Regions from separate parts of the Homo sapiens genome. Here regions 1, 3 and 4 are each reported to be linked to region 2. The links are microRNA targets in miRTarBase. Many come from high-throughput screens and were not tested one by one. Region 2 holds a microRNA gene; each other region holds the end of a gene's coding sequence. Distances are between the middles of the regions.

Region 1 (7,122 bases), not on the chromosome of region 2:
CCAAGCAAGTGATCATTTCTACAGTGGACACCAGATGAATGTCCTATAATTTGATTCAATTTTGATAATGTCTATCTGGAGGTAGCATCAGATCCTACAAGTTTGAGAGCTCAGTCCCACAAGACTGCCCCCCATTTGGGATATCAATCAAAAGTAATACATTGTCACCTATACCTCTGACTATAAACCAGGGTTCCCACAACCCCCTCCTTGGGTTTGATTAGTTTGCTAGAGCCGCTTATAGAACTCAGGGAAATACTTATCTCTACCTGTTTATTATGAAAGATGTTAACAAAAGATACAGATGAACAGCCAGATGGAAGAGATGTGTAGGGCCAAAGGAGAAGGGGCTTCCATGCTCTCTCCAGGCATGCCATGCTCCAGGAACCTCCACGTGTTCAGCTATCTGGAAGCTCTCCTGAGCCCTGTTTTTTGTGTTTTTATGGAGGCTTCATTACTTGCCCATGATTGATTAAATAATTGGCCATTGATGATCAACTCAACCTTCAGCCAGCCCTTTCCCCTCCCCAGAGGCTGTGATCTGGGAAGGGGAGAGGGCTGGCTGAAGGTTGACCAGTTCCCATCCTGAAGCTTTATAGGAGCCTCCAGCCACCAGTCATCTCATTAGCATACAAGATACTCTTAGCACTCTGGTGATTCCAACAAGGGTTTTAGGAGCTGTGTGTAAAGAAAAAGGAAGACCAAATACTTATATCACAATATCATACCTATATTTTTAAAAAGAGAGGGCTGGACGTGGTGGCTTACCCCTGTAATCCTAGCACTTTGGGATTTGGGATGCCAAGGTGGGCAGATCACTTGAGGCCAAAGTTCAGTACCAGCCTTGGCAACATAGACCACATCTGTACAAAAAAGAAAAAAAAAAGAAAAAGAATAAATGCCTACTTTAAAATGTTCACAGAGGTTATTTCATCATTCTTTTGGACTTCAGAAAACTAGAGTTGGGAATCCCTTCTCCAAAAGACATTTACAGAGTTTCAGTTTTAGATCCATTTTTAATTGTTATTTTTCTTCTCTTTTTAGGAGTTTAATCTGATTGATAGGCGTGAGCTGGCACCTCTTCAAGAATTAATAGAGAAACTTGGATCAAAAGACAGATAAATGTTTCTTCTAGAACACAGTTACCCCCTTGCTTCATCTATTGCTAGAACTATCTCATTGCTATCTGTTATAGACTAGTGATACAAACTTTAAGAAAACAGGATAAAAAGATACCCATTGCCTGTGTCTACTGATAAAATTATCCCAAAGGTAGGTTGGTGTGATAGTTTCCGAGTAAGACCTTAAGGACACAGCCAAATCTTAAGTACTGTGTGACCACTCTTGTTGTTATCACATAGTCATACTTGGTTGTAATATGTGATGGTTAACCTGTAGCTTATAAATTTACTTATTATTCTTTTACTCATTTACTCAGTCATTTCTTTACAAGAAAATGATTGAATCTGTTTTAGGTGACAGCACAATGGACATTAAGAATTTCCATCAATAATTTATGAATAAGTTTCCAGAACAAATTTCCTAATAACACAATCAGATTGGTTTTATTCTTTTATTTTACGAATAAAAAATGTATTTTTCAGTATCCTTGAGATTTAGAACATCTGTGTCACTTCAGATAACATTTTAGTTTCAAGTTTGTATGGTAGTGTTTTTATAGATAAGATACGTCTATTTTTTCAAAATTCATGATTGCAGTTTAAATCATCATATGACGTGTGGGTGGGAGCAACCAAAGTTATTTTTACAGGGACTTTATTTTTTGATCTTTATTTGAGATTGTTTTCATATCTATCTAAATTATTAGGAGTGTGTGTATCAGAAGTAATTTTTTAATGTCTTCTAAGGATGGTCTTCCAGGCTTTTAAACTGAAAAGCTTAATTCAGATAGTAGCTTTTGGCTGAGAAAAGGAATCCAAAATATTAATAAATTTAGATCTCAAAACCACTATTTTTATTATTTCATTATTTTTCAGAGGCCTTAAAATTCTGGATAAGAGAATGGAGGAAAATACTCAGAGTACTTGATTATTTTATTTCCTTTTATTAAAAAATTACTTCTATGTTTTTATTGTCTCTTGAGCCTTAGTTAAGAGTAGTGTAGAAATGCATGAACTTCATCCTAATAAGGATAAAACTTAAGGAAAACCACAATAAACCATGAAGGTGTACACATCTTATAACACAGATAAAGTTTTGGTGTGCTACCTATTCTTGAGAGAGTGAGTGAGTGTATGTGTTTAAAGGAAACAAAATGGGAGAAATAAGTTTTAAAAAAATCCTCATTTTGTTAATATTCAAAAGATGGACTGAGCTTCCACTTGGGTTTTATCTTGTTTTAATTGTTTTTGTATCAAAACTTGAAATTCCTCTATTTCTATTGGGATATAAAAGCCTTCCCCTTCAGTGAAGAAAACATTTATTTTTTATTTGATTCCTAGGATTTAGTAAACTCTAGCTGTCTATTTAAAATGTACTGAGGCACAACAAGTATTATACTGGAAGACTTGCCAAACTGGCAAAGCTTTAAGTTCATCAGCATTCTATGTGGTTCAGAGCTGTGATTTTTGCAAAGTATTTTACCAACCTCCTCGATGGCTTTGATAAAGGTTAGATTTGATGTTTTTTTTTAGATTTATTTTTCTTACTCCACTAAACTATAAAGAAAATAATTACTTAGAAACTCCATTTTAAATAATCATTTCCTAGAAATTCTTAAATATATACAGAATTTTAAAGAAAACATTTCATCTGATTTAGTTAGCATCCACATATCATTGAGGAATTAAAGTGTGGGACAGTCATTATTAAAAAAAAGAGAGAAAAGCCCTCTATTAGACATTCCACAATCCATGTTTTAAGCTTATCCAAAGGTCCAAATGTCAGCCATTCTGTATGTTCATGTTGATCATTTGCGAACAAGAAAGCAGGTTTCTAGGTATCACTTAGGATGTGAACTGCCTCTCAACTTTAAACCCTGTTAGCTTTACTTTTTTAAGTCCACAAGTGATGAAACTAGTTTCTCAGCTAGGCTTGTACTTTCCTCATTATTTCTAGTATTTCAAATATTCTCAAACAAAAGAGTTACCACTTTTCTCCATTTATTTTCAGTTATGGAAATGTTCCCTCTCTTCACCACTAAGCTCCAAAGCAAATGAAAGACGATCACATGTCAGGACAGTAGTAAAGGCAGCTTATAAATGGGACATAAATCAGAGATGTGTTGGTATTTTGAGACTCAAGACTGTCCTTTTTTAAAATAAAAATAAAAACATTACCAGGTTCCCAAGCCAATCTGGCTTAACCAACAGTGCACTGAAATATTAGTGTTTACCTCCAAGGCTAGGGAGCCAAGGGGAGGAGGAGAATTGGAGGAAGGGGAGATAATGGGAAGAGGATGGCGCCTTCCTGAGTTGGCTAGAGGGCCAACCTTTGATAACAGTTTGACGAAATCAATCTTTTTTTTTTTTTTTTTTGAGACAGAGTCTCACTCTGTCACCCAGGCTGGAGTACAGTGGTGGGATCTCGGCTCACTGCAAGCTCTGCCTCCCAGGTTCATGCCATTCTCCTGCCCCAGCCTCTCCTGAGTAGCTGGAACTACAGGTGCCCGCCACCACGCCCAGCTAATTTTTTCTATTTTTAGTCATGCCTGGCTAATTTTTTGTATTTTTAGTAGAGATGGGGTTTCACCGTGTTAGCCAGGATGGTCTCCATCTCCTTACCTCGCAATCCGCCCGCCTCAGCCTCCCAAAGTGTTGGGATTACAGGCATGAGCCACCGTGCCCGGCCTATAGAAATCAATCTTTTTGACTCTTCTCACTTTTATCTCCCCATGCCCAAGGTTTGCCTGTTCCATAACACTCACTCCCTTCCCCCTTGCTAATCAGAAGCCATCTCCTCTCAGTGTCTGATCTCTGCTCTTCATACATGATTACAGTCATGGGGTAGAGAGTGCTTGCTAAATTATGCAGTTAATCCTATGGTGCTTTAATTTTCAGGCCTTCAAAAAACACTTGTACAGTGATGTGCAGATTTTTAAACAGTTGAACTTCCTTGTACTACAGTTTTTGTATTGACAGCCAAATTTGTCTTTCATTCTTCAGATTGTGAATAAAGTGATTTTTACAGGGCTTCCAGCAAAGTTTTTCCTTTCATCTAAGGCTTGTAGAACCCTAGCTTATATAGCTGCTTACATGAGAAATGCAAAATCTGTATTCACCATGACTTTAGTAACAAAGGTAAAGTTTTTTAGTAGTGCCAAGGCAAGAGGAACAATCTTGGTGGTAGTACTAAGTTTTGTCAATATTGTGGTTTCCTGATTGTATTGTTGGCTTTCTCTCTGAGCATTGAGGTATACTAGAAGTAGAGCTTCTCAAACATAATATCATTACCTCATAAGCATTAACAAATCAGGCCCAAAGAGCGTAAGTCCTAGAAATTTGTTTTAAAGCAGCCCTAGTCATGGTGCTGGTGCTACCGCCTTGTTTTAGGAGCCTGCCTCCTGTCAGTATGAAACCCTCACCTGAAAAATGCCAGCCTGGACACCAAACACTGAGCCCCTTCAACAGGCACATTATTTCCCCCTGAGATCCATAAGGGAATTTAGTTTCTACTATTGTAGAGTTCTGAAAAGAGGTAAAATAGTAGTCCTTTGGTCATCCTATTTTTGCTTTCAATTTTGATATTTCAGACTGTAAAAGGCCTTGGGGGATGATAGTACATGTGGTAGCAGTAATTTTTTTGAAGCAACTGCACTGACATTCATTTGAGTTTTCTCTCATTATCAGATTCTGTTCCAAACAAGTATTCTGTAGATCCAAATGGATTACCAGTGTGCTACAGACTTCTTATTATAGAACAGCATTCTATTCTACATCAAAAATAGTTTGTGTAAGTTAGTTTTGGTTACCATCTAAAATATTTTTAAATGTTCTTTACATAAAAATTTATGTTGTGTTTTAAAATCCTTAGGGGCTTTATCTATTTTTCTAAGTCAGTTAACTGTACTTCTAAAAAAAGTATTTTGTATCTACTTTTGTAACTTCGTCAGAATAAAATATATTGAAAGCAAGAAATGACTGATTAAAGTATGTATATCAACACACATTTCTATTTAAATATAGAAACTTGAGAGTTTTGCAGATTCTGTGGATTTTTGAGTACAGCTTAAATTTGGAAAGTTATCTTTGCATATCATTTAGTAGCTAAAATGTTTTCTTAGCCGTTAAAAAAGGAAGTTCCTAAATGAACTAAGTATCATACTACTGGGACCGAACCCCTAAGAAACAAACTATGTCTCTGATAGTGGCTAAAACCCATCCCAAACAAAAATACGTGGTCTCCTTCCTGCCATGCAAATCAGGCTCCAGATCTCTTGTACATTCCTGGTTGTGCGATAGTAGAGTTAAAATTAAAAACTTAATGAATGTGGCTAAACAGTACAAGTTAACACTAATTTTATTTTTTTGAGCTGGGGTCTCTGTTGCCCAGGTTGGAGTGCAGTGGCACAGTCTTGGCTCACTGCAACCTCCGCCTCCCAGGCTCAAGTGATCCTTCTTTCTGAGCCTTCTAGTAGCGGGGACAACAGGCACACACCATCATGTCCGGCTAATTTTTTGTATTTTTTGTAAATATGGAGTTTTGCCATGTTGCCCAGGCTGGTCTCGAACTCCTGAGCTCAAGCAATCTGCCTGCCCCGGCCCCAAAGTGCTGGGATTACAGGTGTGAGCCACCACACCTGGCCTAGTTACTAGCAATCAGTTTTGGATTTCTTTTGACATTTTCAGTAGACTTAAAATCAATCACAAAAATGATAAGTTTGTAAGGGTATCTAATGGCTATTTCAAACTTTGTAAAATAATAGAATAACTCAGATAATCTTTGGGAGAGCCAGACTCTGGGTTTGAACCTGCACAGCCAGAAACAATGTCCAAACTATGCCATGGAGCTTCTCTGACAAATACCCCATTGATGTCCCCACTAGGTATGGACATTACAGCCTGCACTGTCCCCACTTAGGTGTGGACACTAGTCTGCACCTTTATCGCTGGCCACTAGATGCCAGTCTGCCACAACACCTCAAAAGCTAGCTACCTTTTTAGCTTTTTACTGGAGTCCTTTAGTAGGTTATCTCATTTAATCCATAAAGCAACCTGGAGAAAGTGACTGCAATTAAGAGGTATGCCAGAAATATTTCAGTATTCTTTAGACCATGCCACATAAGCTCAGACAAGTTCAAATAGCTAGTATATAGCAAGTCTGTTTCTCTGGATTGCATTTGCAAAAATTCTGCATGCTCAGCAGTGCTAGGAAGCTCTATAAAATGATGGTGCAACGAAAAATCATCCCAATGAGGTTAAAAAAGGAGATGCATCCAAAGAGTTCCTACCTAATGAATTTTCTGAGTTTCAGATGTATATATGTGTATGAAAGCTATGAGTGATCATGGACCAATACAACTGAAGAGAACAAGAGAATCTCGAGGTCACAGCAAAAAAAAGTAAGATGCAGAAAGGATTGACATTTCCTGGGACTAAATGCATTTCACTTTTGTTTTAATCACAAAGTAAAACTTACTTATTTGCTTCTGTCAAAAAAAAAAAAAAATACTAGAACTGTTGGAACTAATTTGGAAGCCCAAGATTCGTCAGATCGTCCTGCAAATCCTTTTCTAGAAAAGTTCAAACTTAGACCTATGGAGCGCAAATTGCTGAGCCTCTATCAGTTCTGTTCAGTAATTACAATGCATGCACTTTTTGTCCCATATTGGGCTGCTGACAGATGACTCAAGCAAGGCTCTGTCCTCAGGGAGCTTATAAACCAGTGAGAACAGACACATACATAAATTGATAGTTGTAAAAGGCCATAAGTGCAACAAAAGTTACAGGTAAGTTGCGGGCCCTAAGCTTACTGTGAGGCAGTCAGAGGTGGCTCTTTGGAGAAGACAAGGCTTGAACCTTAAAAGGTGGGCAACTGCATAACCAAACTTGTAGCATAGCTTATGAAGGGAGGTGCAAGTATAATATTACTGAAGGGTAGATTTCAGTTGGACAGGTAGATAGTGGTTAAATCATACAAAAGAACTTGAGAGTTTTGCCTGTA
Region 2 (7,122 bases):
TCCCCCCGCCCCACAACAGGCCCCAGTGTGTGATATTCCCCTTCCTGTGTCCAAGTGTTCTCATTGTTCAATTCCCATCTATGAGTGAGAACATGTGGTGTTTGGTTTTTTGTCCTTGTGATAGTTTGCTGAGAATGATGGTTTCCAGCTTCATCCATGTCCCTACAAAGGACATGAACTCATCATTTTTTATGGCTGCATAGTATTCCATGGTGTATATGTGCCACATTTTCTTAATCCAGTCTATCATTGTTGGACATTTGGGTTGGTTCCAAGTCTTTGCTATTGAGAATAGTGCTGCAATAAACATACGTGTGCATGTGTCTTTATAGCAGCATGATTTATAGTCCTTTGGGTATATACCCAGTAATGGGATGGCTGGGTCAAATGGTATTTCTAGTTCTAGATCCCTGAGGAATCGCCACACTGACTTCCACAATGGTTGAACTAGTTTACAGTCCCACCAACAGTGTAAAAGTGTTCCTATTTCTCCACATCCTCTCCAGCACCTGTTGTTTCCTGACTTTTTAATGACTGCCATTCTAACTGGTGTGAGATGATATCTCATTTTGGTTTTGATTTGCATTTCTCTGATGGTCAGTGATGGTGAGCATTTTTTCATGTGTTTTTTGGCTGCATAAATGTCTTCTTTTGAGAACTGTCTGCTCATGTCCTTCACCCACTTTTTGATGGGGTTGTTTGTTTTTTTCTTGTAAATTTGTTTGAGTTCATTGTAGATTCTAGATATTAGCCCTTTGTCAGATGAGTAGGTTGCGAAAATTTTCTCCCATTTTATGGGTTGCCTGTTCACTCTGATGGTAGTTTCTTTTGCTGTGCAGAAGCTCTTTAGTTTAATTAGATCCCATTTGTCAATTTTGGCTTTTGTTGCCATTGCTTTTGGTATTTTAGACATGAAGTCCTTGCCCGTGCCTATGTCCTGAATGGTAATGCCTAGGTTTTCTTCTAGGTTTTTTATGGTTTTAGGTCTAACATTTAAGTCTTTAATCCATTTGAATTAATTTTTGTATAAGGTGTAAGTAAGGGATCCAGTTTCAGCTTTCTACATATGGCTAGCCAGTTTTCCCAGCACCATTTGTTAAATAGGGCATCCTTTCCCCATTTCTTGTTTTTGTCAGGTTTGTCAAAGATCAGATAGTTGTAGATGTGTGGTATTATTTCTGAGGGCTCTGTTCTGTTCCACTGGTTTATATCTCTGTTTTGGTACCAGTACCATGCTGTTTTGGTTACTGTAGCCTTGTAGTATAGTTTGAAGTCAGGTAGTGTGATGCCTCCAGCTTTATTCTTTTGGCTTAGGATTGACTTGGCAATGCGGGCTCTTTTTTGGTTCCATATGAACTTTAAAGTAGTTTTTTCAATTATGTGAAGAAAGTCATTGGTAGCTTGATGGGGATGGCATTGAATCTATAAATTACCTTGGGCAGTATGGCCATTTTCACAATATTGATTCTTCCTATCCATGAGCATGGAATGTTCTTCCATTTGTTTGTGTCCTCTTTCATTTTGTTGAGCAGTGGTTTGTAGTTCTCCTTGAAGAGGTCTTTCACATCCCTTGTAAGTTGGATTCCTAGGTATTTTATTCTCTTTGAAGCAATTGTGAATGGGAGTTCACTCATGATTTGGCTCTTTGTTTGTCTGTTATTGGGGTATAAGAATGCTTGTGATTTTTGCACACTGATTTTCTATCCTGAGATTTTGCTGAAGTAGCTTATCAGCTTAAGGAGATTTTGGGCTGAGACGATGGGGTTTTCTAGATATACAATCATGTCATCTGCAAACAAGGACAATTTGACTTCCTCTTTTCCTAATTGAACATGCTTTATTTCTTTCTCCTGCCTGATTTCCCTGGCCAGAACTTCCAACACTATGTTGAATAGGAGTGGTGTGAGAGGGCATCCCTGTCTTGTGCCAGTTTTCAGAGGGAATGCCTCCAGTTTTTGCCCATTCAGTATGATATTGGCTGTGGGTTTGTCATAAACAGCTCTTATTATTTTGAGATATATCTTCTCTAGTTCTTTTAATTGTGATGTTAGGGTGTCAATTTTAGATCTTTCCTGCTTTCTCTTGTGGGCATTTAGTGCTATCAATTTCCCTCTACACACTGCTTTAAATGTGTCCCAGAGATTCTGGTATGCTGTGTCTTTGTTCTCGTTGGTTTCAAAGAACATCTTTATTTCCGCCTTCATTTCATTATGTACCCAGTAGTCATTCAGGAGAAGGTTGTTCAGTTTCCACGTAGTTGAGCGGTTTTGAATGAGTTTCTTAATCCTGAGTTCTAGTTTGATTGCACTGTGGTCTGAGAGACAGTTTGTTATAATTTCTGTTCTTTTACATTTGCTGAGGAGTGCTTTACTTCCAACTATGTGGTCAATTTTGGATTAGGTGTGGTGTGAAACCCCCCAACATCTTATACAATGTTGTGGAGCCTACTGTATGTTATTAAAATGTGTTGACAGGGCTTCAGATTAACACACTGGTGATTCTTAGGGCTTTTTGGTTGTTGTTATTTTTGTTTCTTTGTGGCCAAACTTAGGGCTATTTTATCAAGCACTTTCTATATGACACATGACTTTTTCTATTTAATTAAATATTTATAGTAATCCTATAAGCTAGGTATATTTTTTTTCCTTTTACAAATGAATTTGAAGCTTTAAAAGAAAAGAAAAAAAATCATACAGCTGATAATGGTGGAGAAAAGATCCCAATTCAAGCTTGCCTTTCTCTCTAGTCTATTCTTAACTCCTTTGTAAATTGCTGGTTGCCATTTCACCAAGTGGCCTATCGAGCTGACCATGTCTTTCTTTTTTTTTTTTTTTTTTTTCTTTTTTCTTCTTCTTTTTTTTTAGACAGAGTTTCTCTCTTGTTGCCCAGGCTGGAGTGCAATGGCACAATCTGAGCTCACTACAACCTCCACCTCCTGGGATCAAGGGATTCTCCTGCCTCAGCCTCCCGAATAGTTGGGATTACAGGTGTGTGCCATCACGCCCCGCTAATTTTTGTATTTTTAGTAGAGATGGGGTTTCGCCATGTTGGCCAGGCTGGTCTCGAACTCCTGACATCAGGTGATACACCCGCCTCGGCCTCCCAAAGTGCTGGAATTATAGGCATGAGCCACCACTCCTGGCCAGCCATATCTTATACACAGTGATCTTAACCAAAGCCTCATACTCAAATTTAGTTTGCAAGACGTTGCTGAAGATAGAACGCACTGCTGATATGGCTATTGAGAGGAACACAGCCAAAGACAGCTAATTTGTCTTTTCTTGCTGCTCGAGGAAGACTTTAAAATTTGAACCTGGCAGCATAGGTTGATAAAACTGAACTGCAACATGTGCTACCCTTCAAGAAAAAGAAAGGATAGCCCAGAGGGTAGAGCCTCAGGCCCTGAGGGCAGAGGCCTGAGCCAAAGCCTTCAAGCCTGAAGGAATTTGTCCTACTGGATTTCAAAATTGCTTGGGATTAGTGATTCTTTTCTTTCCTCCTTTTTCCTCCCCGGTTAAATGGGAATGTCGATAACGGTTACCCATGCTTGTCCCACCATTGTATTTTGGAAGAAGATAACTTGTTTTCTAGTTTCACAGGTTCACAGATAGAAATTTTGCCTCATCCTGGTCCATATCCAGAGTCTCATTTATACCTGATTTAGATAATTTATATGATGATGAGATTTTGGACTTTTGAATTGAAAATATATAAATGAGAGTTGAGACTTGATTTCATGCTGCTATGGGTTGAGACTTTGAGGATGTTGGGATTGGGTTAATGTATTTTGCAGATGGGATGGATGTGAATCCTTGGGAACCAGAGGATGGCCTGTAATAGGCTGAACAATTTAACAATGCCCCTCCTCAAAGATATCACATCCAAATTCCTGGAACCTGTAAATGTTATCTTACTTACAAGAGAAAAGGGTATTTGCAAATATAATTAAGTTAAAAATCTTAAGATGGAGAGATTTTTCTGCATTATGTGGGTGAGCCCCAAACGCTATAATGAATGCATCGTTAAAAGAGAGAGGCAGAGGGAGATTTAACACAAAGAGAAGAGAGAAGGTGATGTGATGACCTCAACAGAAAGAGAGAAATTTGAAGATGCTATGCTCTATCTTTGATGATGGCCAGAGGAGCCATGAGTGAAGGCGTACAAGAGGGGTCTTGCCACTGAAAAAAATAAGAAATGCCAGCATCCACCAGAAGCCAGAAGCGGCAAGGAATGGATTCTCTCCTGGAGCCTCTGAAAATGAACATGGTACTGTCACACTTCGTTTTCAGCCTACTGATAGTGATTCCCGACTGCTGACTTCTAGAACTGTGAATCAATTGCTATTATTTTAAGCCATTAACTTTGTGGTAATTTATTACAGCAGCCACAAGAAACTAATACCTTTGGTTTTTCAGCGTTTCCTATTTTACTACTGTGAGGGGGCTTATAGATTGCAAATGATGGAGCAAACAGCAGTGTTTCTCAGATCACTAGAAGTCTGCAGCAATAGGCTTAGTATTCACATTATAAGATTGTTATAAAATTGTTCTAATTTTGTATTTGCCTTCCCTTTGGTTTCTAACATCATCATTTTACATTATCTTAACTTTTTTTAAATTTCAGAGAGATCCAAACATTGGTTAAAACTTAGCTAACACTAAGGGTGCATATAGTTGAAACTGTTGGAGCTGTTTACTACAGCACTTTCTATGCCCTTCTAGTTCTGACTTCTAACCCTGATCTAGAGCCACGATGATGTATTTCCCTCACCTTCTTTGGTCACAGAAGGAGGACATTTCACCCAGATCTGCGGCCTAATCACAGGCCACATTTCTGAATAGGCCACGGATCTGGGCAAAATGTCCTCTTTTCTCAGGAGCTCCCCAAACAATAAATCAGTAAATCATATGAATTTTTGCATGAAGTTTTATGAATAGTGGCTTTCTTCTGGGAATACCTCCCTTTTTTAACTTCCTCTGATTTTTTTCTGGACTATGTATCAATTTTTTTCTTTAATGTTTCTTCTCTCTTTATGCTGATTATCATCTCTTTAAACTTACCCAACTCACAGAAAGCTACAAATTTTTGCACTTCCCCATCCCACATGCCTATAGCAGAGTCAACAAACCATGTGAGCAGCAGAAAACTCATGTCCTATTTAAAGAACACGCTGCTTTCTGAAATGAACATGGCAACTAATCTGCCAATTAATTATTTGTCAATAATGAAACTGCAGCCACATTGGCTTTTGACGTGATTGTAATATTCCAATATTATACTAAAATTTCATGTTCTGGGAGCCCTGACAACTTTCAGTTAGATGAGCTCTAATTAGAAGTTTCTAGTGCTCAGTACTTTCCACTATGAACTAGCAACTACACATAGAGATCTACAATCTGATCTTTCATCATGAAACTTGAGATATAAGTACCTTGATGCTTCAACAGAGCTAAACCAAGGCTCCACCTCTTCCTAATCATGCTCCAACCAGTATTTTTTTTTAACTTAATGCCTTTTATTCATTCAACAGCTTGCTTTGCAGAGCTCACAGCTGTAACAGATGTGTCCTATGGTAAGCTCTTCCACAGTAACTGTAGCCTGTTGGTCATGAGCTTCCATTTGTTGAACTCTACATTGTGACTGACAAACTTGGCTGCACCTTAAAATTACCTGAAGAGCTTTTAAAACTTGCTGTCAATTAAATCAAATTCTCTGAGAGTGGGACCTAATGCTCAGTGTGTTTTTTAAAGCTCCCAGTTTATTTCAGTGTGTGGCTAAAGAACCACAACACAATATCCTAAACTTCTCATTACTGATCATTCTTTCTTCAATGTTCTTTTTCTTTATTCATCATCACTTAACATTTCCTCTAAGGCTTTATTAGCATAGTTCTATAATTCCTTAGAGTTAAAGAAAATTCAGATATTTTTACATCATTGAAAGCTAAAACTTTGTTACTTACATAAGTGCTTAAAAGGCATGCAATGCCCATAAATTCTGTGTTAGATTCAAAATAGTTAACCTTATTTTATACATTATAGAAATTCTAAGGTTAATTTTTTAAAAATTAGGTCTTAAAATGCTTACATTTACAAATCTGATCAATAGTTGCAACCTCTTGTTACTGTTTGCTTTTATAAATTGACCATTAGATGCTTGTGCTCATGAGTTGACACATTGAAATTATGCAAGGTTGAATTTTGAAAAATCTCTGTCACCATATTTAATGGTTCAAGGGAATGAAAGGATTCTAGTTACATAGGCCTAAAGGACATAATGAAATTTAAAATTTGTTTCCCTTAGAAAAGATTAAGATATATTTTCTTAAAAGATATTAAGAAAGGTATTCTTCCATATCCTAAGTTCCCTTAGTAAGTTTCCATGATTAGCATCAATTGTTGAAGTGAAGTTAATTTATGTGTGTCTTACCGAATTTACTGTGGATAAAGGATGACTCAAATAAGTATACACTTGGCCATCTGTTTTTGCAAGTTCTGCATCCACAGATTCAACCCACCATTGATTTAAAAAATCCAAAAATAAAAATAAAAAATCAAAATCAAAATCAAAAAACAATACACTACAACTATTCATTAAGCATTTACATTGCATTAGGTATTATAAGTAACCTAGAGATGATTTAAAGTATCTGTATATAGGTTATACGAAAATACTATATCATTTTATGTAAGAGACTTGAGCATTCGTAGATTTTGGTAACCACGGAGGTCCTGGAACCTTCCATAGATACCAAGGGATGACTGTAATTACTTGGAACCAGCCCTGACCATGATCAGTATACTCATTTACCAATTCGCTTCCATTTGATACTATACATTCACAGGACCATGCAGAGGAGGGCAGGGCTAGCATTTACAAATCAGTCTTTTCCAACTCTTCCAAAGAGATGATGTGTTTCCCAGACTTCCCATTTCCCGATGACTTCCCCAACTTTATGCACAACAGCAAGATCCAGGAATATATCATTGCATTTGCCAAAGAAAAGAACCTCCTGAAGTACATACAATTTAAGGTAAGATGTTATCAACAATTTAGCTCTTGTCATAATGCTGAAGAAGTCTATGTCTACTACTGGATTCTCATTTGTTCCTTTCAGTTTCC
Region 3 (7,115 bases), not on the chromosome of region 2:
TTTTTAGTAGAGACACAGTTTCACCATACTGGCCAGTCTGGTTTCGAACTTCTGACCTCGTGATGCACCCGCCTCGCCCTCCCAAAGTGCTGGGATTACAGGCGTAAGCCACCGCGCCCGGCTGAAGTAAATGTTTTCTTTAAAATGTTTTGTTTCTTGTAGAAAAGTTGTTTGTGGATGTTTTTTCATTGAATCTTCAGAGTAAATCTGTCCCTCTTAAGCATGAGATCTGTGTTGCATTTTCTTCCATTTATTCCATCTTTCGTGTGTCTAGCATGTTGTCTTGCATGCTACAAATGCAAATGTTTACTGAATGAAGACATAAATAAGTATAATACATACTTGTCAATTTTTAAACATTGAGTTAGAAAATAAAGCTGATTATGAGGCTAAAGTTTAATTAATTTTCTGAGACATAATTAAAGCTCTGGGTTTTAATGAATCGATATTAATAGAATATAGTAATTGTAGTAATTTAGTACTGATTAAGAGTAACCTATTAGATATCTTTCTCTTGCAAGTGAAATCTGTTTAAATACTTCTATGCAATAACAAAGTTAAACATTCATATGAAATATCTCCAATAATAAAGGCAAATACCTTTCAAATGGCAGGGTTTCTACTTAAAAATCACAAGCAGATACTAATTTTTCAATGATATATTTTACATTGGAGTCACAAGAGTAATCTGTTACTTGAGTAGGATAAATTATCTCAAGCATTACAAATGCTTAAATATCAAATATGTACTTATTAGTCCTTAATCCTAAAACATAACTACCAAAGGTTTAATTTATTCTATATTCTACTTATGTCTACATTTTCTCAAGGTTTAAACACATTTACCCAGTAAGGAAACAAGTACATTATCTCAAATGATTTAGGGATTATGTTCCCAACCAAAATCTGGTAAATAACTTTTCAGATAGCTGAGACTGCTGAAGTCAGCTACCCCATCAAGGCTATAACTAACCTTCTTCACTGTTTCTGTGGTTTTGCAATTCTTTTCCATAAGACACTTCAAGTCTATTACACTCAAAAACTACTTTGAGTTCATTCCATTGGATCGTTCATGCTCTTAATTATATGCAACCTATTTGAATAGGAAGAATCCTATATTCTTTTCTTATTCTATCTGGTAGGGCTACAGCTTTTTTGAATTCCAGGCAACAGTCAGGGCTTTGTCTGAATCTATGGTCACAGGCTACACCTGGGGAATTCGCCTTCAGCTCACCTGTTCCTGTAGTAAATATTCCGTAACGTGCCGAGGTCCTTCTGGCCCAGCTACTTGCACCTGGTGATCAGGCAGGTACAATGAGCCAGAGCCTCCAAACACACTCAGGTGGTAGGGAGCGAAACTTAGAAGATAAGTTGGTGCAAAAGTAATTGCTGTTTTTACCTTTAAAGTCCCGCCCCCGCCGGACCTGGAAAAGGATGGAGAGGGGGTCTCGTCTGACTCCGCCCCCCAAGGGGAGGGAGATTTGCCTCTGAGCATGGGAAGCATGACCAGGTTTGGATCTAGGGTGCTGGGGTCCTGGTGGAGCTCCAGTGGGCCCCCTCCCTGCACCCCTGCGATTCATCCAACCTCCCTACACCCTCAAATGACAAGTTCAGCCCCCCAAAACCCCCGGTGACGAGTCCAGCCGTGCTCCCATTCTTCACAAAGGGTGAGGACGGACTTTCAAAGACTCAGAGATCCCACGGGTGTGGGTTGGAGACCTTCCTCTACCGGTTCCCAGCTCCCTTACCTGAGCACACGACTTATGCGCCATTTAATTTTCCATAAGAAATCGCTCTCATGTACTTGTTCTGTGCCATTACTTCTAATGGCAAAAACACCAGTTACTTTTGTTACCAGTGGAGGGTGTCCAGGCTCTTGGTGTCTTGAACTAAGAACTGAACAAAATGCACAAAGCAAGGAAAGAATGAAGCAAAAAAAGCATGCATTTACTGAAAATAAAGTACCCTTCACAGGCTCCAGGACTCAAGAACCAATTAGAGGCTTAAGTGAAACAACCAATCAGAGGATGAATAAAAATTTAAATAGCCCTTCCACCCTTCCACCACTTCCACCACTTCCACCACTTTGTGAAGTCACAACAGGTACACCCTATGCAAGCATCTGATTGGTTGTGGAAAGCAACCAATCAGAGGCTAAAGTGAAGTTACAAAGTTACATTTCTATGCAGGCGACTTGGCCTGCGATCCGTCTGATTGGTTACAAAGTTACATTCCTACGCAGAAGCAACCAGAGATACTTTCAATTTTCCATGTGCCACGCAGAAAGGTGTGGGGGAGGGGCAGTTGAAAGGGAGGAGCCATCTGGTACTTTTGTTATTTAGGTCTGGAAAATTGGGGTTTTCCTTTTGATTTAGTTCTAGGAAGTCAGTGTGAATCGGCCTTAGTTTCCTTGCCTCCAGACCCTATTCTCCTGCCTCACTTTTGCACCAACCTCATACAACAACCCATACAGAACTTGAAGATCCAGGAAGCCTCTGCCTCCATCCAGGAGCCGCTTCATCCTCTACTCGGTGTAACTATCTCTGAGATTCCACATCCTTTGAGATTAAAAACACTTTACATCTTCTGGGTCTGTTGACGGGTCCTTCCACCAATCACATCGCTGTGCTTCTGTGACAACTGAACACAACTGGAAGTGAAAAACAACTCCTCATTCAAAGGGGTTTAACGTAAGTAAAGGGAAGTTAATGTCCCATGTTTCTGAAATATTCAGAGGTAGGGCTCATTTCAGGAAAGGCATGAACCAGCAGCTCAGTTGGCCACACACCTACCCCAGATCCAAACGCTGTTACTAGGGTCTAGCTCAGAAGAGGTCACAGGTGCCAATCCAATATCCAGATGGAAATTATTCTCCTTGGAACGAACCCCAACAAAAATCAAGAGTCACGAAAAATGGGGAAAGAGAGAATTTATGCTGGGAAGGCATAAAGTCCACTACAGATAACATAACAACAACAACAAAATTCTCTCTCTCCCCCTCTGGCTATGATATGGTATGAGACTATACCATATTTCATTTCAAGAATGTTCAAAGCAGCTGGGCATAGTGGTGCACGCCTATAGTCCCAGCTACTCAGGAGGCTGAAGCAGAAGTATCACATGAGCCCAGGAATTCAAGGCTATAGCATGCTATGATCATGTCTGTGAATAGCCACTGCACTCCAACCTGGGCAACACAGCAAGACCCTGACTCATTTTTTAAAAAAGGTCAAAGCAGTGCTGTTTAAAACAAAAAAACTGAAAGCAACTTTAATGTCCAACAATATGAAGTAAGGTACATAATTCATGGTACACCTTTATAATAAAACATTACATCAGCATTTCTCAATCTCTTAGGTCTGAGAACCCTTCCATACTCTTAAAAAAAAATCACTGAGGACCCCAAAGAGCTTTTATTAATATGGGTTATATCTATCACTACCACTTTAGAAATTAAAACAGACATTTAAAAATGTTTCTTGTTTTATTTAAAAATAGCAGTAGTAAACCAAGTACACATTAACATAAATACTTTTAAAAAACATATTTTTAAAAACTGAGAACAGCAGCATTGTTTACATTTTGCAAATCTCATTGTCTGGCTTAACAAAAGTGGCTGTATTCTCAGATCTACTTCTGCATTCAATCCATTTTGATATGCTGTTTTGGCTGAAGTATATGAAAAAAATCTGACTTTGCACAGGCACGTAGTTGGAAAAGAGAAGAGTATTTTAATAGCCTGTTCAGATAATGGTGGACATTGTTCTCTGAAATTTTACCAAAAAGTGGACAAGTAATAGTTTCTTAAAGATTAGTTGCAGTGTGTAATCTGAAACTATATCAATAAACTTTTTCATACTCTGTTATATTCAAATATATCAAATCCATTGGTCCATCTTGTACTCTGAACAGATCTTTTACCCAGTCATGATTTCTTTTTTTATTTTTGAGACGGAGTCTTGCTCTGTCGCCAGGCTGGGGTGCAGTGGCGCAGTCTCAGCTCACTGCAATCTCCGCCTCCTGAGTTCAAGCGATTCTCCTGCCTCAGCCTCCCGAGTAGCTGGGATTATAGGCACGCACCAACACACCCAGCTAATTTTTGTATTTTTAGTAGAGACGGGGTTTCACCATGTTGGCCAGGGTGGTCTCGATCTCCTGATCTCGTGATCCGCCCGCCTCGGCCTCCCAAAGTGCTGGGATTACAGGCGTGAGCCACCGCGCCCGGCCTCAGTCATGATTTCTTAACATCACATATTAGTCATCCAGAACATACTGATTCACTGAGTTATACGGATCTTCGAAACACAGAAAAAATCTTTATATAATATCAAAAACTCACATTTGTTAATTACTATCCATCTCATTAGAAAAGGCTTTATGTAAGGCTGTGCATGGTGGCTCACACCTGTAATCCCACTATTTTGGGGGACTGAGGCGGGAGGACTGCTTGAAAGAAAGAAAAAGAGAAAGAAAAAGAAAGAAAGAGAGAGAGAGAGAGAAAGAAAGAAAGAAAGAGAAAGAAAAAGAAAGGAGGGAGGGAGGGAGGGAGGGAGGGAGGGAGGAAGGAAGGAAGGAAGGAAGGAAGGGGAAGGGAAGGGAAGGAAGGAAAGAGAGAAAGAAGAAGAGGAAGAGGAAGAAGAAGGAGGAGGAGGAGGAAGGAAGGAAGAAGGAAGAAGGAGAAGAAGAAGAATCAGAAGAAGAATTAGTAGTAGTAGTAGTGAAAGCGAAGAGAAAGAGAAGTCTTTATGTTAAGGAAAGCTGTCAAGCTTCCAGTGGAGGAACACAACTTTTCCAAAATTATACATTTTGCTAGAAATCTCCAATTTTATCATTGGCACAACAAATACCAGTTGTTTTCCGTGAAGAGGCCAACTTAGTTCAATTTTGAGAAAATGTCTGCCAAACATCCAAATCTAATAACCAATCATCGTTTTTCATTAGTCATTCTTTTCAGTGAAAATGGCAAGCCATGAAAAAAAGCAGCAAATTCAATTGGCAACTCAAATAATCAAACAAGTGCTTCTCCTGGAGACAGCCTCGTACCTAGGCATGCAGCAGACGTGTCTGTGCGTACTTGCCACTCCATCACACAGGATATTCACAGGGTATTGCAGATGCACACACAAAAGCATGCAAATGCAGAAGCCATGGCTGGACAACAACATATCACATATTTAATAGGCGCCACTACCTTCTGGTAATGCAATGCAGAAAAATGGGAATATACGAGACTTTTATATTTTAACTAAAAACAAATGAATATAAAAAAGTCTGGTGGGATACACAAAAGAGGTTGACTGTGATTAGCTACTAGTAAAACTATGAATGATTTTTATTTTCATTTTTCTCACTTCCCTGGATTTTCTAGTTCTTCTATGACAGATATATTTGTTTCTTAACAAGTTATTTTTATTTACAAAAAAGCCAATCAAAGGCTTTGAAATGGATGGTGAACTGCTTAAAGTTAAATAATCATCGTTTACCCAACTCTGTGTCACAGTATAGGTTTTAAATTAAGTCACATGTGCTACATAAGAGAGATTAGAATCAAATTCTGACATCCTGGAAAAATAAAGGTACTTAAAATAATTAAGTAAATGAAAGCTAAAAAATATATATATAATATTCAGTATGAAAAACATTGTTTTATTACTTGAAAAATAATAGAAATTGTATATAAAATACAAAATATACACTTGCCTAGTGCAATTGGTCTCCATTTTACATTTTTTACATGTTTTTTCCCTATTTAATGGCACCCAAAATGCGGTTTCATTTTCACTGCCCTGGTCAACTAATACCATTTAACAACGTATTTAAGAACTTCTTCAAAAGACAGTAAAAACAATTTGTAAAATAACTATGCTTTCTTACATTTACAAAACAGAATTTTGATAATATATGAATATTTTATATCACATAATTACCATGTAACTACTAATCTGTTATCTATATCAAATCAGAGCACATAACATTTTCCAAATACACTGTTTTAATAAAGAGATTAGAAAACAGGACAGTAACAGTTTCTTAAAGCAATCTTACAGGAAGTCTAATTTAATATTCTGTTAGGTGATGTACTCACGTAGGCTCCCAGAAGACCCAGAAACTACATGAATTGCGGAAGGCTGATTTAAGATGCCAGTTCTTCAATAAACAGTGAACTTTGTAATTAGAATGATTTTTAAGCCAAAATACTACTCCTTACTCTTCAGAAATAAAATATAGCTATCCTCTTATAATACAGCAAGAAACATAATTGTTCTGGTAATTGCCAGCTTAACTAAAAAGACCTCCCCTTTTCGTTTTGTCCATTAATTTCTTGCTGGTATCACTTCCTTTGGCAAACCACACAGGTAATCGTCTCTTTCTCTCTGCAGATGAAGTCTGTAGGAAATAGAAAGAAAAAGAAATCAAATCTTTGTACTACTGAGAAGGGGTATTAGTTGCAAAAAAGTAACATAAGTTCCTGAATACACACCCATCCTTTCTCCCCCATCCAAACAAAATAGTGGTATCTATATAATTTATTTCTGGATCAAAAAGTAAATAAATATAAGACACACAAAATCACTACATCATTTCTTCAGGCAATTACTTGCCATCTCATCATGTAGTCTTATACACTCAACACACCTCATTCAGTAAGTAAAAATCTGGACATTATTTCAGATCTGTGTCCCATGGTGTACTTGCTTTGAGTTGACCAAAATGGTGAATTTAATGTTCTGAGGAAGGAACATGCCTGGGCATGTATACATACACAAAGAGTTATATTAGGCATGTGAAAAGAATATAGCTTCTAACATCTACAACGGTAGGTAGACAGACTGGTCCAATCAGCACCCTGTAGAGTGGCCAAGGCATAGTACGCTTAACAAACATTCGCTAAATAAATGAAAAAAATAAAAGTTTCTTGTCTCATAGACTCATCTAAGAATCACTACAGATCCACTTCCCAGAAAAAAAGAGAAACATACACGTGCACAACACTTTCACACACATTTCAGCAGCTCACGTGCCAAAGAGCCTCTAACCCTCAGGTTAAACATCCTTGAAAAAAAAATAATTTAAGGCTGGGTGAGGTGGCTCACGCCTGCAATCCCAACACTTTG
Region 4 (7,122 bases), 160 Mb from region 2:
TGGGTGTGGTGGCGGGCACCTGTACTCTCAGCTACTTGGGAGGCTGAGGCAGGAGAATCACTTGAACCCAGGAGGCAGAGGTTGCAGTGAGCAGAGATCACGCCACTGCAGTCCAGCCTAGGTGATAGAGCGAGACTGTCTCAAAAAAAAAAAAAAAAGGCCAGGCACGGTGGCTCACGCCTGTAATCCCAGCGCTTTGGGAGGCCAAGGCGGGTGGATCACGAGGTCAGGAGATGGAGACCATCCTGGCTAACACGGTGAAACCCCGTCTCTACTAAAAATACAAAAAATTAGCCAGGCGTGGTGGCAGGCGCCTGTAAGTCCTAGCTACTCCGGAGGCTGAGGCAGGAGAATGGCGTGAACCCGGGAGGCGGAGCTTGCAGTGAGCAGAGATGGCACCACTGCACTCCAGCCTGGGCGACAGAGCAAGACTCCGTCTCAAAAAAAAAAAAAAAAAAAGCAACTGCCACTAGCACTGGGAAATTAAAATATTCATAGAGCCAAGTTATCTTTGCATGGCTGATTAGCAGTTCATATTCCTCCCCAGAATTGCAAGATCCTGAAGGGCTTAAGTGAAATTTACTCTGATGAGTAACTTGCTTATCAATTCATGAAGCTCAGAGGGTCATCAGGCTGGGGTGGGGGCCGGTGGGAAGCAGGTGGTCAGTAATCAAGTTCAGAGGATGGGCACACTCATACATGAAGCTGACTTTTCCAGGACAGCCAGGTCACCAAGCCAGATATGTCTGTGTTCTCTTTGCAGTACTGAAGATAACAGCCAGGGAGGACAAGCAGGGCTGGGCCTAGGGACAGACTGCAAGAGGCTCCTGTCCCCTGGGGTCTCTGCTGCATTTGTGTCATCTTGTTGCCATGGAGTTGTGATCATCCCATCTAAGCTGCAGCTTCCTGTCAACACTTCTCACATCTTATGCTAACTGTAGATAAAGTGGTTTGATGGTGACTTCCTCGCCTCTCCCACCCCATGCATTAAATTTTAAGGTAGAACCTCACCTGTTACTGAAAGTGGTTTGAAAGTGAATAAACTTCAGCACCATGGACAGAAGACAAATGCCTGCGTTGGTGTGCTTTCTTTCTTCTTGGGAAGAGAATTCAGGCCGATATTCCTTGTCGTTTTACTCTTTGTCAGAGGAAAGAATGCTGAGTTTTTCTTCTTCCTTTCATTTCACCCTCCTTTTTTGGTAGGTGGTTGGGGAGGCCTCAAATTCCACTCCTAGTGGGGTTTTTGTTGTTTTTAGGGGGGAACATTCAGAAAATGAGAGTATTAATTAGATTTTCTCTGGTACATTTCGAGAGAGTTAGGTTCTACAGCTAAGGTAATGGTACTTTTAGTTTTGAAAAGAGTAGGCAGAGTGTTGAATTTAAAAGCTGAGCAGGCCGGGTGTGGTGGCTCACTCCTGTAATCCCAGCATTTTGGGAGGCCAAGGTGGGCAAATCACTTGAGCCCAGGAGTTCAAGACCAGCCTGAGCAATAGAGTGAGACCCCATCTCTACAAAAAATTTAAAAATTAGCCAGGCATGATGATGTGCACCTGTAGTTCCAGCTATTCAGGAGGCCGAAGTGGGAGGATGGCTTGAGCCTGGGAGGTGGAGGCTGCAGTGAGCTGGTATTGTGCCACTGCATTCCAGCCTGGGTGACAGAATGAGACTTGTCTCAAAAAAATAAAAACTGAGCAAAGTGAAGAAAGGTTTGCCATGCAGACAAACTACAAGTTCATGTGCCTTTTGTGTACTAACAAGTATTTGGAAAACAGACATAGTCTTTGCCTAATCCGGGTCTGAAGGGCCTGGGCTTGTATTTTACTAAGAGCTGCTGGAGAAGATGCCGGCTTTTTGTATCTGCTCCTGAAGAGGGTATTTGCTCTGAGCACAAAACACCAGGCAATAAGTTCACCTTAAACAGAGTAAACTGTTTTCCCACCTGTTACCCCCATGGATCCCAACCTCATCAGATTCTATGACACTCCAACACCCCACACCCACACATGCCACTGTGCCTTTATTTCTGCTGTTCCTTCCACCTGGGGTGTCCTTCCTCTGGTCCTCCCGAGGACATTGTACTGATTTCTTAAGGCTCATATGAACACTACTTCTTTCCTGGTACCTCATGCCTAGTAACAATGAGTCCCTTCGTAGGCAGTGTTGCACATGTAACTGTTATAATAGCACACAACACGAGTTGCCTATGTGCAATTGCTTGTGTCTACGTCCCTAGACTGCAAGCTCTTTGAGGGCAAATGCCCCTTCAGCACTCTCAGAGTTGATGCCCCATAAATGTTGGTCAAATTGCCTTGGTCTTGTCCAGAAATTGGGAAAAGAGGAAATGAAGTAGTAACTTGCTCCTTGCGGAGGAAAGGGGGAGGCTCCCAGTGAACTAATGGCAGGGGGTTGAGGTGGGGGGAGAGCCTCACCTAACCACCTCCAGTCAAAATCTTCTCTACCTGGACTTTAAATACCAGGAAAACCAGGGGGTAGAGAATGACAAGGATGAAAGTAAGAGCGACAGGAGACAGCACTGGCCCAAACCTGGCTCCTGAGGTCTGGGATGGTGTTGCGGGTTGCTAGGAGGGGAAGTAGCCCATTCTCAAGGTGTCACCGTAACACAGGTAACACAGGGAGTTCTCATTGAATGAAACTGATTGAAAAATGACAAAAACACAAGGCAGAAAATGCCCCTGGGACTTACAGAACACTTGGGGATGGATGCAGGAGCTGAACTGGCTGCGACCACTGATGGAACAGCCACTTCTGTCACTGATGGAATGATGATTTGAAGCAGATCAGAGACAGAGGCCGCTCTTCTTGCAAAACCAAAAGCAAGCGAACAAAAAGCAATGGCCGATGGCAACAACAGAAGCTGGCCACGGGTCTTCACCTCTCCAGACCCAGCAGCAGTTTCACTTCTTCTGGTTGGACATCGGGGCAATCTGTGTGTGGGGCAACTTCCTAAACACCAGGAAGAAACAGAATGGATTCCCCATCCGCTGCTCCTCCAGGACGCGGCTGCTAGCAGGAGGAGATGAATTCTAGAGGAGAGGATCAGGAAGAGTGTTCATCTGAAGGGAGAAACAGACAACGGTGACCTCTGCTAAGATCCACAGGATGAAATCTGTTCTTATTAAGGTCACTGTCTAATACAGAGAAGTGGACCCGCAAGAATGAAGAGCCCCACTGCCCAGCTGCATAGGGAGAGCTCTGAGACTCTAAAACTACGTCCTAGTGTAATTTCCACACATCAGAAAGAGGGGGAGTAAAATAAAAAGCAAGTATCCCTTGAAAGAAAGAGCAGCAGGGCCGGGCGTGGTGGCTCACGCCTGTAATCCCAGCACTTTGGGAGGCCGAGGCGGGTAGGATCACCAGGTCAGGAGATTGAGACCATCCTGGCTAACATGGTGAAACCCCATCTCTACCAAAAATACAAAAAATTAGCCAGGCATGGTGGTGGGCGCCTGTAGTCCCAGCCACTCGGGAGGCTGAGGCAGGAGAATGGCGTGAACCTGGGAGGCGGAGCTTGCAGTGAGCTGAGATGGCACCACTGCACTCCAGCCTGGGTGACAGCGAGACTCTGTCTCAAAAAAAGAAAGAAAGAAAGAAAGCAGCATGGAGACAAAAGGCTAAAGGAGACAGAGGAGACAGAAGACATTTTATTCTCACATGTTAGGGTTACAATGAGAACTCCCAAGTTCCAAAGGTTCAAATAAAAATAGCATTTTACAAATTAAAAAAAATACAATTTATATACACAGTGGAATTAGCTAACATCATACAAACAAACAGTGCAAACAGAAAAAAGGAAGCTGCGACTGCGGCAATGGCCAAGGTCCGCAGAGCTGTGGTGCAATACTGCACATCAATACTGCAGGGCTGGCGAGGCCACCTTGGGCCTCTCGAAAGGCTTTCCTGTCACCCAGGGTCATGTCAGTGCATAATTCTGCATCACAAATGCCATACAGTGGACTGGGTCCTGAAAGTGTCCCTTCCAGCTGGGAACTGTTAAGTTAATCAAGGTCAGGAGCAAATCATCCCTCAGCACAAGGTCCCAAAGCCAGGGCCGGGGGCCCATTGGCCCCACTCCCTGATCACCTCGCCTAGGGGCCATGGAACACCAAGCTGGAGATGAAACACAAAACACCACTTCTTACCACCCGTAGGCTCCCCATCCACAGATCTGCTTTACTGAGGCGACTGATCACTGGGTGATGGGGCTGCTAATGGGTGAGATGCTGAAAAGGCTGGTTTCTAATGGACAGAAATGGAAGGAGCGAGGGTCACAGTTGATTTGTCATGAGTGGAGAAGTTGCTGTCTTTGGGCTTATCTGGAAAGCGCAGATGCAGAGAGAGGAGAAAAGGAAACCACGTGCCTTTGCATGGGGCCTGGGTTTGGGGCCTCCTTGGCAGCCGTCCAGTCAGTTTAGGGGAGGGAGGTATTTGCATTCTACTGTCTATCTCTGGGCTAAACTGATGGGAACAAAATATCTGGTGACTTAAACACAACAGGATGTGCACGAGGGATGAATTCCAATAACATTCACCGGGGCAGCCTCAGGGCAGGCGGCTGCTGATCCAGCCCTCGAGAGGCCGGGGTCCTCCTGCAGGGCGTTAGCTCTGCCAGCTCCAGGAAGGGGCGGGGAGAGGGGACAAAGTGTCTGTGACAGGTGATCACACCATTCTCCTGACTTGGACAATTGGCTTCCTTCTTAATAAAAGGAAGAAATAACGTGATCAAGCTCTGAACACTGCCATAAAACACAGCAGCAGCTGGCCAAATAGTAACATTTAAATAAGAATTGCCTTTTTGGTCCTTGTGATGTCCTGCGCTATTTCCTGGGAGTATTATCCCCATTTCATAAGTCAGGTGCATTCTGGGAAGCAGAAACATTTAGAAGTCAAAGCAATTTTGGTCAGGGAGATAAGAAAATGGGGAAAATGGAGGGGCCACAATCAGCTAGAAAAGACCTTGAAGCAGCCCCATCTCTGGAGTGGAATTATTCCCTAGAGTGTGCTGAGCGCAAGATCTGGACCAGCAGAGCCAGGACTGATGCTCACCCCAGGGTGAAAGGCAGACTTGGCCAAGGAGGTCGCCCAGGGCTGGGCCTGAGAGCTGTGCTGCCAGGGCCAGGTGCCGAGGCCCGTGGGCAACCTCCACGGTTTTAAAAAAAACTAAACGTAAATGAAGGCCATCTTGAGCCAAAGCACGTCTGCCCCAGGGATGCCTGCTGGGACTAATACCATGTAGAAGGTGGGGGAAGATAAGCATGAATGCCCAATGCCCAGATGCTCACTTTGGGTGCCTAGTCAGAGGGGGCGGGCCAGCCTGGAGAAGAATGACGTCACTGAACGACAGGGTGCGCTTCCCATGCTTCATGTGAAACCTTCAGGCACGTGCTGGCAGGAAGCATCTTCCCCACGCACCCTCCCTGCGGCACAGGAGGCCCTCCTGAAGGGCCTCTGTATGTAAGCTTGGGACAGCTAGTGCAGGGGAGAGAGAGGTGTTTGTGAAGGGCAGACACCCTCTTCCTCAAATAGGCCATCTGCTTTATCATAGCACATACCTTTCAGTGGTCACTGGCTCAGAAGTGCTTCCTTTCTACTTTGGAAAAAAAATGGTAGCATTCCCCAGAGTTGAGTGAAGCTGCTTTATCCAGGAGTGCCCTGCTTTCAGCTAACTTTGGTGGGTGATGCCAAGATCCTCTGAGCTCTGCCTGCTTCATCAGGAAGACGGAGATCAAAACTTAAGGAAATGAAAAAGGATCTGGGTAGAAACGTGTTACTGGGAGACTGGGAATAATCTGCAGATGGAGAGAAAGCTGCAATGTTAAGAATTAGGGTAGACGTAAATCTGATCCTATTATCAGATTGACCATCCAGGGGTTATTAGTGTGATTTTAATCCTTTATGTTTCTGGTGGGCGGTGGTTCTAAGGAGAGTCAAACCACAGGGCAAGACCAGAGCCTCTGCTCACACCCAGGAGCAGAGTGTTTCCCTTAAAACCAACTAGCGAGGATACCGTGTTAAGAGTCCCAAATAAGGGAAGGACTCTCTGAAATATTGAGAATTTTCTCAGTGCCCAATTCCTAAACCTAGTCATGAACTGTATGTTGTCACTGGCATCTCCCCAGCTTTTGCCTTGGCCAAGTCCCTCTCACACATTTAAGGCAACAGCCGGGTTCTCTAGGAAAGTAGCAAAGATGGCCAGGAACACTGCTCGGAGTGCAGCCCGGGGCCCGCCTGATTCTACCTCTGCTTCTGGCTCTGGTGGAGCCAGGGGTGGGCCTGTGCCAACACTGGAGGGTGGGAACACAGGGAGCAGGAAGTGGGAAGATCCTTGCTGGGGAAGTCAGAAAAGTCCAAGCTCTGATGGTTCAAAACCACCCCCAGGACCTCTGACCAGCAAGGTGTCCGATGACTCCCGGCTTTCTGAGTGAGTGGGTGACTGGGAATCTTCCATGCCCCGGAACAGCCCCAGCCAGCTGTGCCCGCCGGAGTGAGCATGATTTGCCTCCCCAGGCAGCACCAGGAGAGGGTGGGCTGGGCTGTCAGATGGTCTGGTAGTGCTGCCTCAGCCGGGCCTGCAGAAATTCATAGGTGAGGTTGTGCCGTGTGATGATCCCCACGATCTAGGGCAAAGAGAAGGCCTGAGTCACCTTCAGGGTAAAACCCGCTGGCGAGAACAGGAGTGACAGGAGCCGGCCCTGTTAGTTTGTCACAGAATGTGGAGGCCTGGATAGTGCACAGCCAGACACAGCTTGATTGGGATAAACAGCTAACGAGGGCTCACACACTGGAGGCCAAGGGGACAAGGTTAGCTCCAAAAAGGGCTTGGGCCAGCTGGCATCTGAACTAAAATGTCCTTCCACAGGGCACATGCTCAGCGCTCAGCTCCCATCATGACCAGCCTGCTTCACAGATGTGCAAGCGGTGGGGCCCTTGAAGTCTCCTGAGATTATGACCCCTGCCATGCCTCATACTCACCACCTTGCAAAGTGACCTATGGGAGTCATTTGTTACAGGTCGTTACAGTGGTTCCCACGTGTCACTGTTGTTGGGAACTCCAAAGCCACGTCATAAACTATGTTAGGACTCTGTCAGTGTAGTTGGCAATTA

What was found. The annotated mature microRNA hsa-miR-1295b-3p reads AAUAGGCCACGGAUCUGGGCAA and lies in region 2 at 4,837-4,858, shown strand. An mRNA with a match to its seed (bases 2 to 7 or 8) in the 3' UTR can be bound and repressed. Matches are read on the target gene's strand: a 7mer-m8 pairs with bases 2 to 8, a 7mer-A1 pairs with bases 2 to 7 and ends in A, and an 8mer does both.
Region 1: miRTarBase lists MOB1A as a target of hsa-miR-1295b-3p. Seed matches in the 3' UTR shown: 8mer at 3,807-3,814.
Region 3: miRTarBase lists WRN as a target of hsa-miR-1295b-3p. Seed matches in the 3' UTR shown: 7mer-A1 at 4,068-4,074.
Region 4: miRTarBase lists CLCN6 as a target of hsa-miR-1295b-3p. Seed matches in the 3' UTR shown: 7mer-m8 at 5,541-5,547.

Annotation. Positions count from the first base shown.
Region 1 is chr2:74,150,568-74,157,689 of GRCh38, reverse strand. It overlaps MOB1A (MOB kinase activator 1A), which reads left to right. Exons shown (of 6, transcript NM_018221.5): 6 at 1,045-5,162. The coding sequence ends at 1,122. BOLA3-DT (BOLA3 divergent transcript) reads right to left here. Exons shown (of 3, transcript NR_045636.1): 3 at 5,301-7,122. Among named protein-coding and RNA genes, the nearest start is that of BOLA3-DT, 6.1 kb to the right of the region's middle.
Region 2 is chr1:171,096,941-171,104,062 of GRCh38, forward strand. It overlaps MIR1295B (microRNA 1295b), which reads left to right and starts at 4,799; the gene lies at 4,799-4,858. FMO3 (flavin containing dimethylaniline monoxygenase 3) reads left to right here. Exons shown (of 9, transcript NM_001002294.3): 3 at 6,845-7,033. It overlaps MIR1295A (microRNA 1295a), which reads right to left and starts at 4,866; the gene lies at 4,788-4,866.
Region 3 is chr8:31,172,267-31,179,381 of GRCh38, reverse strand. WRN (WRN RecQ like helicase) reads right to left here. Exons shown (of 35, transcript NM_000553.6): 35 at 3,244-6,387. The coding sequence ends at 6,280. It overlaps LOC105379358 (a long non-coding RNA gene), which reads right to left and starts at 2,307. Exons shown (of 2, transcript XR_007060884.1): 1 at 1,749-2,307; 2 at 1-1,294. RefSeq lists an enhancer at 6,134-7,115.
Region 4 is chr1:11,839,656-11,846,777 of GRCh38, reverse strand. CLCN6 (chloride voltage-gated channel 6) reads right to left here. Exons shown (of 23, transcript NM_001286.5): 23 at 3,648-6,635. The coding sequence ends at 6,555. NPPA (natriuretic peptide A) reads left to right here. Exons shown (of 3, transcript NM_006172.4): 3 at 764-1,069. The coding sequence ends at 769. It also overlaps NPPA-AS1. Among named protein-coding and RNA genes, the nearest start is that of NPPA, 4.6 kb to the left of the region's middle.